2 separate regions of the Homo sapiens genome follow, and region 2 is linked to region 1. A link means that fine-mapping ties the variant in region 1 to the expression of a gene that starts in the linked region. Tissue or cell type: whole blood. Region 1 holds a variant in brackets; the other region holds the start of a gene. All regions are shown on one strand. Distances are between the middles of the regions.

The links. PIP is the estimated chance that this variant, and not a neighbour inherited with it, causes the effect.
Region 2: it holds the start of C2CD2L, and the variant in region 1 is fine-mapped to the expression of C2CD2L in whole blood (INTERVAL, PIP above 0.99).

The regions. Positions count from the first base shown.
Region 1 is chr11:119,129,910-119,137,791 of GRCh38, forward strand. HINFP (histone H4 transcription factor) reads left to right here. Exons shown (of 10, transcript NM_198971.3): 3 at 816-1,045; 4 at 1,626-1,737; 5 at 1,921-2,073; 6 at 2,587-2,664; 7 at 2,752-2,872; 8 at 2,955-3,093; 9 at 3,186-3,310; 10 at 4,175-6,150. The coding sequence ends at 4,589. Among named protein-coding and RNA genes, the nearest start is that of HINFP, 12 kb to the left of the region's middle. The variant T/A (reference allele first, on the strand shown) is at 4,067.
Region 2 is chr11:119,102,706-119,109,380 of GRCh38, forward strand. It overlaps C2CD2L (C2CD2 like), which reads left to right and starts at 4,639. Exons shown (of 14, transcript NM_001290474.2): 1 at 4,639-5,390. The coding sequence starts at 5,037. RefSeq lists an enhancer at 1-416 and silencers at 4,474-4,923, 4,994-5,273.

The sequences.
Region 1 (7,882 bases):
CCATAATTGATAGTTTCAAAATTCAAGTCATATTTATACAAAGGCAAAATTGGGGAATGATTATATTTTCTAAAGTATCTGTGTTTCAAAACAAGTTAACTTATATAAAGCGCTGAAAATACAGTGCTTAGGGATGCTAGAGAGATAGGAAATGGATTGGAAGAGTTGATGGGGCCTTCTTGGAGAAGGCAGATCTTGAGCAAAACATGAGGGGAAGGAGGAGTGGTGGTTTTACAAGGAGAAGTGGGAGGTGTCAGATCGAGAGGCAGCATCTTCATCAGGAACTGCAGAAACTCAAGTCAGAGGACTTGCGTGCCGGCCATTTCTGCTGTCTGTTTCTGGCATAGGCCTTGCACACACTCTCACCTCTGCCTAGACCACACTTCTTCACCTATTTACAGATACTCATCCATCGTACTTCAGAGTTCAACATGGGGACGTTTCTCAGAACACCATGTCAAATGACCTCTGTTTAATGCTTTTATAGCACCATGTATATCCCCGCTTTGTAACACTCATCACTGGTTGCAGTTTTATATTTATAGATCTGATTATTTGATGAATATGCTTTCTCCCTGACTGAAAGCTATGTGAGGGCAAGGAGTGGGACACTTTTTACTTGTTATAGTCCCTCTAACTGGCACACAATTTATGGTCATTAAATACTGGTATTTGCTAAATGAACCCTGGTAATTTGGTTAGAGTCCAGCCTCCTCACGAGTCCAGCCTCCTCACTCTCTGTTTAGTGCTGCAGGTGGAAGGTGACCTGAGCCTTGGAAAGTGTCAGACTCTTCCTTTTAAACCCCTTTCTACAGAGGAAGAATTCTCCTGCTTGTGGCAGGAATGTGGCTTTTGTTCTCTGGACAGTTCTGCTGACCTCATCCGCCATGTCTACTTCCACTGCTACCACACCAAGCTGAAACAGTGGGGGCTGCAGGCCTTGCAAAGCCAGGCTGACCTTGGCCCCTGCATCCTGGACTTCCAGAGCCGGAACGTCATCCCTGATATCCCTGACCACTTCCTGTGTCTGTGGGAGCACTGTGAGGTCAGCAGGCAGTGCCAGTAATTGGGGTGGAAGGAAGCTGGGGGTCTTAACTCTGATGCCTTGTCCCTTTCAGGGATGCCTTATATTTCCAAGATTCCTGCTAGTATCTCTCTTCCATTTCTTTTGCTCTTTTAAAATTTGTTTATTTTTTACACACAGGCTCTTGATCTGAAGCCCAGGCTAGAGTGCAGTGGTACAATCATAGCTCACTGTAACCTTGAACTCCTGGGCTCAAGCAATCCTCCCACCTCAGCCTCCCAAGTAGCTAGGACTACAGGCATGTACCACCATGCCCTGCTAACTTCTAAATTTTTTGTAGAGACAAGGTCTGGGTGTGTTGCCCAGGCCGGTCTCGAACTCTTGGCCTCAAGTGATTCTCCTGCCTCAGCCTCTCAAAGTGCTGGGATTACAGGGTTTAGCAACCGCACCCGGCCACTCCTCCATTTCTGTGCAGTGCCTTTCCTCAAAATTTCCCATCCCCATCAAGTTAATTTGGGAGAGAGCCAAGAATTCTTCGGGCACATAGGGGTGAGTCCCTCTACCCACCCTCAGTCCTCACCCCAAGTTGCCCCTGGCACAGAATTCCTTCGACAATCCTGAGTGGTTTTATCGGCATGTGGAAGCACACAGTCTGTGCTGTGAATACGAAGCAGTCGGCAAGGACAACCCGGTGGTGCTGTGTGGCTGGAAAGGTAGGGCTGCTTCTTAACTTGTGGCTTCTGGAGGAAACGCTGGGGTTCCTGAAGAGCTGGGACAGAAAGGGATAGGGGTCCTACAGGGGCAAGGTTGACTGCCGGCTGGAGAGACTCAGGGGTACCAGATCCTAGGCAAAACTGGGGTTTTGTGGCAGGAGACTGATAGGGCTTCCTTCCCAGGCTGTACCTGCACCTTCAAGGACCGCAGTAAACTTCGAGAGCACCTCCGCAGCCATACCCAGGAGAAAGTGGTAGCCTGCCCCACCTGTGGGGGCATGTTTGCCAACAATACCAAGTTCTTAGATCACATCCGTCGCCAGACCTCATTGGATCGTAAGTAGTCAGAGGAAGTGGGGTGGATGCAGGCTGTCCTGCTTGGAATGGGTTAGGGGCATGTTTCTAGTGGGGGTGGCCACTGAAGAGACCTGCCTTTTGGCTGCCTCTTCTTTTTGGGCTCAGGCACCTCCCATAGTCTCTTTGCTGATTCAGATTCGTAGGCATTGTTATTCAGTACTTACTGTACCTCGTATCAGTTACTTAGGGAATCCTCACAACAGCCCCATGAGGTAGGCTTCTTATCCCCCTTTTTGCAGATGAGGAAACTGAGGCTCAGAGAGGTTAAATCACTTACCTGAGATCACACAGCTAGTAAGTGGTGAAGCTGGAATTCTAACTCAGGTTCTCTAAGTCCCATGCTCTTTCCATGATACTGTGTCCATTCATAGCTCCCTAAGCTCTCCTTTTCTCCTTGGGTGGTTCCCTTCTGCCTGGGATGGTTCCCCTCTCCTTTCTGTGCCTCTCCACTATCACCTACAGCCCTCCTTTCTTCTGCCTGCCCCACCCCAGAGCAGCACTTCCAGTGTTCTCACTGTTCCAAGAGATTTGCCACAGAGCGGCTATTGCGGGACCACATGCGCAACCATGGTGAGTGGCCTGCGGCCCACAGCCTCCCTCCTGCCCTCCAAGGTTCCACAAGTTCTCACATCACAGCCTCCTCTCTGCTTCTCTCAGTGAATCACTATAAGTGCCCTCTGTGTGACATGACCTGCCCGCTGCCTTCCTCCCTCCGCAACCACATGCGCTTTCGTCACAGTGAGGACCGGCCCTTTAAATGTGACTGTTGTGACTACAGGTAAGGGGGACCAGGGACCAGAAAACAGCTCATGTTCCAGTGTTCCCCATGTCCTCCAATCCCTCCTGATTTCTCATGGCAGCTGCAAGAATCTTATTGACCTCCAGAAGCACCTGGATACCCACAGCGAGGAGCCAGCCTACAGGTGTGATTTTGAGAACTGCACCTTCAGTGCCCGATCCCTCTGCTCTATCAAGTCCCATTACCGCAAAGTACATGAAGTGAGTGGGGCTGGTGTTGGGAAGGACTAGTGGAAGTATGGGGGACCCTGGGGTGAAGAGCTGGTCTCATTTCTCCCTTCCTTCCCCATCAGGGAGACTCTGAGCCAAGGTACAAATGTCATGTGTGTGACAAATGCTTCACACGGGGCAACAACCTCACCGTGCACCTTCGCAAGAAGCACCAGTTCAAGTGGCCCTCAGGGCATCCCCGTTTTCGGTATGTCTCTCAACCCTCCTTCCCAGATTAACACACTTGTTTTTATACCTTTTCAACCAGTTTTAAAAACCTTAATTTGGGTCGGGCGCGGTGGCTCACGCCTGTAATCCCAGCACTTTGGGAGGCCAAGGTGGGCGGATCATGAGGTCAGGAGTTCGAGACCAGCCTGGCCAACATGGTGAAACCCCGTCTCTACTAAAAATACAAAAAGTAGCTGAGCATGGTGGCACATGCCTGTAGTCCCAGCTACTTGGGAGGCTGAGGTGGGAGAATCACTTGAACCCAGAAGGCGGAGGTTGTAGTGAGCTGAGATCATGCCACTGCACTCCAACCTGGGTGACAGAGCGAGACTCCATCTCAAAAATAAATAAATAAATAAATAAAACCTTAATTTGATGGTGGTTTTATGTCTGCCATTTCCATTTAGATTCAAAGAATCCTAAGAATAATGGTGGAGCAAAGCTTATTTTTCTGTTTTTTGAATCTTGTAAGGCATGGTGCCAAACCCAATAAATGGTGCCAAAAAGTCCTGCAGCTGGAACTAGAGCTAGAGTCTAAGGGTTCTGATCCTTAGCTCCAAGGCCTTCTCATAAATCCTTTGACACTTTCACCCTCCAACACAGTCAGTCAGTCTCTGTTTTTCTGGTTGGGTTTCTATATAAAACTTTCCATTTTGAGTAATGATCTTTCCCTCTTGCCTTTTCTTCTACATATTCCAATAAAGACCTTTTTTGTCTTCAACTCCTGTCACTTGGA[T/A]TCCAGGACTTCTTCCATCCCTCATGTTTGTTCCTTACTTTGCCAGCCTCGGCCATTTCTGTATCCCCCTGCCTGGGTTTGCTGCCCTTTATGCTCCTACCTCACCAGGTACAAGGAACATGAAGATGGCTATATGCGGCTGCAGCTGGTTCGCTACGAGAGTGTAGAGCTGACACAGCAACTGCTGCGGCAACCACAAGAGGGATCGGGCCTGGGAACGTCGCTGAACGAGAGCAGCCTGCAGGGCATTATTCTAGAAACAGTGCCAGGGGAGCCAGGACGTAAGGAAGAGGAAGAGGAGGGCAAGGGTAGCGAAGGGACAGCCCTCTCAGCCTCTCAGGACAACCCCAGTTCTGTCATCCACGTGGTGAATCAGACCAATGCCCAAGGCCAGCAAGAGATCGTCTACTATGTGCTGTCTGAAGCCCCAGGGGAGCCTCCCCCAGCCCCTGAGCCACCTTCAGGGGGCATCATGGAAAAGCTTCAAGGAATAGCTGAGGAGCCAGAGATCCAGATGGTTTGAAGGCCGCAGAGCCAGACCATTTCTTCCCCAGGTCCTGAAGTTTGAGCCAGGCAAGTGGCAGTGCCCCTAGTGGGCAGCCGTTGCCAATGGATGCCTTTAGGAGTGGTGCCGAGAGCAGTGTGGTCCACTCTGGCCTGGGTTTGCATCATTCTGCAGACTCTAAAGACTTCCCTTTTCTGCCAGACTACATTTTGTGGGGAGCCTGAGGACTCTGGATTCTTTGAGGGGATCCTGGATGTGTGTGTTCTTGTTAAAGAGGCTGTTATCAGGCTTAACCATAACCCTCAAGATCTGCTTGACAGTGATTAAATCCTTAGCTCACATCCATTCCCATCTTTCGGGCTCCTTAGGCCCAAGGATGGCATGTGACTGGTCCCTGCAAGGGTCCTTTCTTTGTCACCAGCCAAGGCATTGATAACCAAGTAGCCATTTTCCTCTTAAGGTTTCCTCTACAACCCCAAGGACTTTCATGATTATCCTCAGGGACAGGATTGGAGGCATTGAGCGTGTTTATTAACAAATTGTTTTTGGTAATAAAATAAATGCTTGGACTCTTATTTATTTCTTCTTACATTTGGTGGCAGTTTACTAGGTAATGAGGAGATACAGCCACCCAGAAGAGGAGCTGAATAGTTAGGCTTGTTCCCCTTCTGGTGACTCAGGTGGTTTGTTTTTTGTTTGCTTAACTGTCCTGTTGTCTTCTCCTCCTCCCCTTGGTGAAACTTCGCTATTCTCAGAGCGTATGCCATTTCCATGGAGGTCCCAGGTGTTTGGCTGTGAGTGGGCAGTAGTGGTGCTATAGAATGAACAAGAATGGGCTCACTGGGAGGATAGGGCAGCTGACCATGGCCTCACTCTGAATACTGATTAGAACCCAGTGCCTCTAGGGTAGGGGTTCTTTACCTGGGAGTGGGAAGGAAGCTGGGGGGTGGAGAGGATTGGGAAGCCTCCCAGGGAAGGGAGGCAATCAAGTGGTCCAGGAACCAAACTAGAAAATTGTGTGTCTGAATGTGCATTTTCCTGGGGAAAGGATCTGTTTTTTGCTAGATTATCAAAGAGATTGAAACCTCCCAAAATAAGAATCATCATTTCGTCTGGTTCAGCTGCTTCTCAGCACCCTGTGTCCATTTTTATGGTCTACTGCTATGCTGGAGAGGTCAAGGAAATAGTCTTGGGGACAGGAAGCTGCCCAAAAAGGATCTCTGGGCCTTTTTTTGTAAGACCTAATTCTATTACTAGAAAAACTAAGGCTGAATGCAGTGGTTCACGCCTGTAATCCCAACACTTTGGGAGGCTGAGGCGGGCGGATCACAAGGTCAAGAGATGGAGACCATCCTGGCCAACATGGTGAAACCCCGTCTCTACTAAAAATATAAAAATCAGCTGGGCATGGTGGCACACATCTGTAGTCCCAGCTACTCGGGAGGCTGAGGCAGGAGAATTGCTTGAACCCGGGAGGCTGAGGTTGCAGTGAGCCGAGATCATGCCACTGCACTCCAGCCTGGCGACACAGTGAGACTCCGTCTCAAATAAATAAATAAATAAAGAAAGAAAAGAAAAACTGTGTGTGTCTATTTGTGGAAAGAAAAAGATCTCTTCATTAATCCCATCAGCCATTTATTGAGTTCCTACTATAGTCCAGGCACAGGTGCTAAGGATACAAAGATGAATAAAACCCAGGACCTTCCCTGGAGGGACTTGCAATGCAGAAGCAAGGAAAGACTAGGTAAGCTGAGTGATAGAAGTTAATCAGGGTACATTTAGAAGGCTCCAAATAGGAGTAATGGTACTACCTGGGCAAGGGATCAGGAAAGGTTTCATCCAGGAAGAGACCTTCCACCTAACCAAGACTAGATGAAGACTTTAAAGGTTCTAAACTCTGAAAAGATTGTGGTGTCCCATTTTTCATATGTAATCAGAATGAAAATATTAAGCCATGAAACATTTAAAGTTCAACATGATTATACTTAAAACATATATTGTATATAGATTAACTATCAAATTCTGTTTCTAATTTTTTCTTTTATTTTTCAGTTCCCCAGTTTTGCTGGTGTCTAAGCACTGGCGTGGGGTGTCCCTTGAGTAATGCAGCACTAATGACTCTATCCATTCTTCCATGAGCAGTGTCTTCGGGAGCAGGCCAGCATTCTATGAAAAGGACCTTCCCTACTAGTCTTCTCAGTCATGCCCACACCAAATCGCATTGCTCTATCTGGACCATGGAGACAGCAGAAGAGATTCTGGTCTGTTACCATGTGATTCCATTCCCTAGGAGGAGGGGTGACTTGGGATCCTGGACTCAGTATGCATGGCTTAGAAAGTACTGGACCAGGAGTGAGGGGTCACTGTTGAGTAGTCTAGGCAGCCAGAGGCCTCTGGAAGGATACTAAAGGCTGTGGTGGGTGACAGTGGGCTCCTGGAGGGAGGAGGGTGATGATACTAATTTGGTTACCTTAGAATTTCACCTAGAGTCAACCCTGGTCCCAGCATCATGGTGTCTGAAGATTAAGGAGACACCCTGTCTTAGTCTTCCTTAAAGGGGGTAGGGATAGGAGAGAAGGCAGGTGGCCCAGGAGTTGGAAGCAGATAACTTCTTTTCTCTTATTTGTGGCAAGTCCACAACCACAGAGGACTTAGAAGAACTGGGTGGATATAAAAAAGTGTCAACTATGGCCGGGTATGGTGGCTCACGCCTGTAATCCTAGCACTTTGGGAGGCCGAGGTGGGCGGATCACTTGAGGTCAGGAGTTCCAGACCAGTCTGGCCAACATGGGGAAACCCTGTCTCTACTAAAAATACAAAAATTAGTTGGGCATGGTGGCACATGCTTGTAGTCTCAGCTACTCAGGAGGCTGAGGCAGGAGAATTGCTTGAATCTGGGAGGCAGAGGTTGGAGTGAGCTGAGATCACGTCACTGTACTCCAGCCTGGGCGACAGACCAAGACTGTCTCAAAAAAAAAAAAAAAAAAAGTGTCAACTAAAAAGGAAAATTGAAAAAGAGGCCAGGTGCAGTGGCTCATGCCTATAATCCCAGCACTTTGGGAGGCCGAGGTGGGTGGATGGCTTGAGCCCAGGAATTCGCGACTAGCCTGAGCAACATGACAAAACCCCAATTCTACAAAAAATACAAAAATTTAGCCCAGGCGTGGTGGTGCATGCCTGTAGTCCCAGCTACTTGGGAGGCTGAGGTGAGAGAATTGCCTGAGCCTGGGGAAGTTGAGGCTGCAGTGAGCTGTGATTGTGCCACTGCACTCCAGCCTGGATGACAGAACAGTGTCTCAAAAAAAAAAAAA
Region 2 (6,675 bases), 28 kb before region 1:
AGGGAGAGGAATCAGACCCACAACTGATTTCCTGTGAGTCTGAGGAACTCCCAGTCAGGTTTCTTCCTGTAGGTCACTGTGCATTTTGCTTGGCCTCCTGCAGGTTGCTGTGCATTTTGCTTGGCCTGTTCCCCTGCAAACAACAATTCACCAGCTTTTTTTTTTTTTTTTTTTTTTTTTTTTTGAGACAGAGTTTCGCTCTTGTTGCCCAGGCTGGAGTGCAATGGCGCGATCTCGGCTCACCGAAACCTCCACCTCCCAGGTTCAAGAGATTCTCCTGCCTCAGCCTCCCGAGTAGCTGGGATTACAGGCAGTAGCTGGAATTACAGGCATGCGCCACCACGCCCGGCTAATTTTGTATTTTTAGTAGAGACGGGATTTCCCTATGTTGGTCAGGCTGGTTTGGGACTCCCGACCTCAGGTGATCTGCCCGCCTTGGCCTCCCAAAATGCTGGGAGTACAGGCGTGAGCCACCACGCCCAGCCAGTTCACCAGCATCTTTATTACCTTTCATTCCCCGACAGGCTCTTAGGCGGCAAATGATTTCCATTTGTCAGAGAGGAAGTCACCACCAGTGAGTTAGGGAAAGGACTCCAATAGCCTAGCGCTTTGTCCACTCTTCCCTCTATGGCATGTTCCAGGAGTCAGGGTCATGTTGACCGTTTTTAAGCCGAAGATAGTTTCTTCTTTCCCTCAAAATCAGATGTGAGGCCGGGCGCAGTGGCTAACGTCTGTAATCCCAGCACTTTGGTAGGCGAAGGTGGGTGGCTCACTTGAGGTCAGGAGTTCGAGACCAGCCTGGCCAACACGGTGAAACCCCGTCTCTACTGAAAATACAAAAATTAGCCGGGTGTGGTGGCACATGCCTGTAATCTCAGCTACTCAGGAGGCTGAGGCAGGAGGATCGCTTGAACCTGGGATGAGGAGGTTGCAGTGAGCCGCGATCATGCCACTGCATCCCAGCCTGGGCAACAGAGGGGAAACTGTCTCAAAACAAACAAACAAACAAACTAAATCAGATGTGAAATGGCTTTTCTACTTGAAAATGGCTCTAATTAACAACAACAAAAACCCAGATATGTATAAAATACATAAATTTTCGTAATTTACTTGCTAGTATTCCACCAGATTTTCAGTACTTATCCCACTGCTATTATTTTTCTGTGTGTGTTGTGTGTATGCACGTGTGCCCCTTTTAAACTAGAAACTCCCGGGAGGCAAGTGTTTTCTCTTCCACAGGGTGTCCCCATGGGGCTAGGAACACAGACATCTGTGTACAAGGAAGGCATCATCACACATAATGAGGCTGAGGCTGAAAGGAGGACTGAGGGCAATAGGTGCATATGGAGGGAGCAATTAGTTGTGACCAGAGTAAGTGGTCTTGAGGAAGAGAAGTATCATTTCAGTAGATTATAAGAGTAGAAGGACCTTTCACAGGCAGCGACAGTGAGACACCAGAAGCTGGTGGAAAGGAGGAGCTTGTGGGATCCCAGAGGAGGCAGCATTCAGTTATCTTGTTGATGACGAGTATACTGAGACTCCCTGGAGGTCTGAGAGCCAGTCTGTATCTATTTCCTTTTTTATTAGGAGGCCAATCCTAATAAATCTTCCTTCCCAGCCTGGTATTGGGAAGCTTTATCTCTTTCTTCTCCAGAGATCATTAGCCCTCCCTACCACCACCCTCCTGGGGAGGGTGGAAGGATGTAATCAAAGACAAGAGAGACTAAGGATTCATCATCCACATATACATGTTACTATCAGAAAATGGTTACTAAGATACTTGTCAGATAATCTGAGTATTTTTGTTCCCATGATGATAAAGTCCCAGTTGATGATCAGACTAATCAGAAGGAGAAACAAACACATGACTTTTGGCTTCACTTGAAATTGTGTGCCTTCCCTGGTAAAAGTTCAAAGCGTTTTCCTGAATGCTGAAGCCGGCCCTAGGATTCACAGACCAGTTGACTTGTCAGTGGCCCTGGACTGAGCAGACAGTGTTTGAGATGCACACCTCTTCTAAGTAGCCTTGAGTGGCTCCCAATGAGCAAGGCCAATCCACTGAATGTGATTGCTAGACAAAGCCTGTCCCAAAAATGTTTCATAGTGCCACAAAGACAATGAGACCCCTCTGGATAGTCTGGGGCTGTGATACTTGCAGGACTCTATCTGTGGCTCTGTCCAGTCAGCTGAATCACTCTTTTTCCTTTTCCTCCCACCTCTCCCCTCTTAGTCTAGAAAAAAGTTGTTAATTAAAAGCAAGCCCCAGGATTTCCCATTCCACTGGTATGGCATGAATGATATTTCAAAAGACAGAAATGGCATAGAAATTCTCAAAGCATACTTGAGTATTTTCTGTTAGACTTCTTAAAATTACAAAGTTTGTTAATCCCTACTATGTGCATAGGAAGCTCTTCAGTACTGTGGAGGATACAAACTAATATAATTGCAGTTGCTTGCCCCCAGGGAGTCTACTTCAGCATATTTGGAGCATCTTGGTTGAATTTGAGGGAAAAGAGATGACTAAGACATGGTTCCCACCCCTAGGCAGCTTCCTGATGCATGGAAAAAGCAGACATATAAACAATCAGCTAGACTCTAAGGCAGAATGTAAGTGCTAGAGGTCTAAGTAATGGAAGAAAGAAGGAGGACTAGGCTGGGCACAGTGGCTCTCACCTGTAATCCCAGCACTTTGGGAGGCCGAGGCGGGAGGATCACCTGAGGTCAGGAGTTCGAGATCAGCCTGGCCAACATGGTGAAACCCTGTCTCTACTAAAAATAACAAAAATTAGCCAGGCATGATGGCGCATGCCTATAGTCCCAACTACTTGGTAGGCTGAGGCAGGAGAATCACTCAAACCTGGGAGGTGGAGGTTGCAGTGAGCCAAGATCTCGCTACTGCACCCCAGCCTGGGCAACAGTGACTTTCTGTCTCAAGAAAAGAGAAAAAAAAAAAAAAAAAGAGGGAGGACTAACTAGGGAGACTCATGTAACTAGGTAGACTCACAGTTCAGATACTGAATTGTGAAGCAGTATCTGGCAGCATAGGACCAAGCACTCAGTGGAGAAGTTGAGGGAATAAATCAAAGAAGTCAGAGAATGGAGATCACTAGGGGGTCTGAGGGTTCCTGAAGGATTCTTGGGGGAAGAGGGTCTTCATAGGGAAAGCTTCTACCTGGACAACTTCCTGCATAACCTGCTCCCCTAAACCCTAGCTGCTCTTCCCACTGACAGCTTCCTCCTGCATCCCTGGTTCTGGCCCTGAGTTCTCTCCTCCCTTGATTTCATGTCTTCTCCTCCCTTTGAGATTAGAAACCCAGACTCTAGGAATCTCCACTGATTTGGCAGTCCAGTGACAATGCATGGGCAGGGCCACAGGAGGTTACCTCATTCACCCCCACCTCTCCCCATCATTCCTTACAGGGAAATCTAGGGAGGCCCAGGCTACCCCACCACCTCCTCTGGCTCAGACAAACCTGTTGCTGACCTGTCAGTTTCTGTCTAGCCCTGCCATCCCACACTTCAGAAGGCATTGTTTATTCTCTTATTCTCATGTGCTCATTCCTCAGACAACTACTTGGGTTTGGGAGAAAGATACTTAACACCTTTCCATCCTACCTCTTTAAGAAAGGGACTGTGTGCCAAAGACCTTCCCACATGTATGAAGAAGGGGCTCTTGGGAGAATGTGAATTCCCCCAGGATTCCTTTGAATCCTTTTGCAGGTATTTCCTTCCCCTGTCCTCAGCAAGCATTGATGAGCCCCAGTCCTGTAGAGGTTGAATCAACTCCTTGAGTCTAGGAAAAGATGGCTTCTGAGGCCAGAGGTTGGGCAGTGTACCTACAGCACCATTTCTTGGGAGCTTGTTGGGATATCACATACTTAGAGTGGCAAGGTCTTGTGGCTGAATCTATTGATAGTCCAGTGCTACATTGCCAGCTCCCTTGTCATTACCACCCCCTCTACACGTGCTCCATAGGCAGGAGCTGTTACTATGGAAATACATTATTTTTAAAAACAGACACACAGCCTGGGCTTGGGAATCTCCAGAACAAACCTACACGAGCAAGGAGGTTAATGGGGCTGTTTCTGGGTCCAAGCTCCAAGAGGAAGGAGGGTGATGATGGTGGGGGGAATTCAAATTCGGTGTTCTACTCTCAACCTCTCCCAGCTTCAGGTTCTGCTTTCTCTCTGTTGACATCAGCTGGACCTCTGCCAGACACTTCTATCTGGGAGGGACGCTCTGCGTCTCCTTACCCTGGGCCTAGCTTCCCCCAGGAAATGGGAAGCTAGAAGTCGCTGAGTCTGGGGGTGTTGGGAGAAGGGGGCGGTGATTTCCACAGGGGTCACCTCCTTCTTAACCTCACAGGCGTCCGACCTGTGGAAATCTAACAAGCATAGGGGAAAGCAAAGGCAGCATCTTAGGTAAGTGAAGTTACTCTTGCCTTGAGCTGAGTGTGGGAGCACCGCGATTGCAAGATGGGGCGAGGTGATCAAAGATCCCGCCTATTTTCAACCCCGGAACCTCCTCCGCTCGCTGCTAGCCCTCCCGCCCTCCTCCAGCGAGGGAGCGCCAGGCTGTCCTGGCCCCGCCCGGCGCGGGTGCGGCTCCTTTAAGGGCGGGTGGGGGCGGGGCGCCGGCGGTGTTGTCAGTGTCAGCTCTGCGCACGCAGCCCTCCCGGAGCCGGTGCCGGCCCGCGAGCCCCAGCGTCTCTGCAGACCAGTCCCCTCCAGGGTCCGGCGGGGCCCGCGCGGTGGGAGGAGTCGGGCACTGGCCGGCGACTAACGGGTCCGACTGCTGACCAAGCTAGGAGAGACCCGGACCACGGAGACAGAGACCCCGGCATCGCGACCCCCGAGGACCTCCTCTCCTCGCCCTGTGGCACCCACTAGTCCTGGGCACTCAGCCGCGGAGAGCCCCCGACCCCGCGCGCCCAGCCCCGGGGGAGCCCACCTCCTCCCCGCGGCCCGCCCGGGCCATGCTCCCCCGGGGCAGCGGGTGAGCCCCAGCCGGGACCGGGATCGGAGCCCGCGCGGAGCATGGATCCGGGCTGGGGGCAGCGGGACGTGGGCTGGGCGGCCTTGCTGATCCTCTTCGCCGCCTCGCTGCTCACGGTGTTCGCCTGGCTGCTGCAATATGCCCGGGGCTTGTGGCTGGCGCGGGCCCGCGGGGACCGGGGCCCGGGACCCGCCTTAGCCGGGGAACCCGCGGGTTCCCTGCGGGAGCTGGGCGTGTGGCGCTCGCTGCTGCGGCTGCGGGCGACTCGGGCTGGCGCCGCCGAGGAGCCAGGAGTCCGGGGCCTCCTGGCGTCACTCTTCGCCTTCAAGTCTTTCCGGGAGAACTGGCAGCGGGCTTGGGTGCGAGCGCTGAACGAGCAGGCCTGCAGAAACGGGGTGAGTTGGACCAAGCGCTTGGGTGGTCCCTTCAGCCTTTCCTTCCAGGGGAGGGACTGACTGCTCGTGCTAGGAGGCCAGACGAGGGTGGGCATAAACTGGGGAACCCTATGGCTTCTCTTCCCCTCCCGGATCAGAGAAAAGGGTGCCGCTAAGGCTGGAGGTTGTAGAAATCCAACTGGGTCCCCAGACTTCCATTTCTGTGGGCAAGGTACTCTGGTTCCAAACCCATGCACAAGTTGCTGTTCTCATAGCAACGCTAATCCCTGTGCCTGAGGGCACTTCCGCCTTGCCTGGGTGCTGGTTGTGTTGGGGCATGGGAGACAGGTGCACCTGCAGAAGGAATTTGCCTGCTTCTCATGCCACCACACCCATTTAACATTTCATGCCCCAAATCCCTGGTGTGGTCAGGCAGATCCCCAAGGAGCCTGAATCACCCCCCTACCCGACAGTAATTTCACTGCTACAGTCAAACACATCCTTCTCCTCCATGCTGGCCTGTGGTTCACTGGGGGTTGGGGAGTGTTCAGGTGGAGAGCAGATTGACAGTGCCCCTACCAGTAGATGAGCTTGGAACTGCCCCTTGAGGGTCAGTCACAAACCAGTCCAGCCTACTTCCTCCCATTGCACCATGGGCATCTGGCCTCCCAGGAAGTGGGGCAGGAAGCGTGGTCATGAGATGGAGATAAGGTGGGAGGTAGAAGTCTCTCTTTTCTGGAGCTCCCTCCCATCCTGACCCAGCAATCTCTCCTTGCTCTCACAGTCCATCAGCTCCTTGCTCAGAGGGTTCTCTATTTCCAGCCACTATGAGTTTGGAGGCTTTACCTTACTAGTTCCCCAGATGCCGGAAACAGAAATGTCCACAAGAAATTGCTCTATTTACTCTGTCCAGCTGGCTGGCTAAAAGCCAGATGGCATCTGTCAGTTTACACCTTGAACCCACCTCTTCATCCAACTCTCCCTGTACCTTGTCCCTCGGTCAGAAGCAACTCCCCAGGATAGCTGACTCAACTGGACATTGGCCTCCCTTGCAGAGGGTGGGGAGATTGAGGTTTCAAGCATCCATCTCCCCATCTTCCTTGGCCTAGCCTTTGAATGAGACAGCTACCAGAGCAAAGGAGTTGGCTTCCCCTGGTTTGCCAAGCAAATGAACCCTATGGATTTGTTTCCTCCATCTCAAGACCCAAGGAAGAGTTGCCAGCCAATTCTGTGCCCCTTCCTCAATTCTGTGTCCGCACTGCTCTCCAGGTGGGGCTGCGGTAGGTTGCTTCCATTACTGTGGACG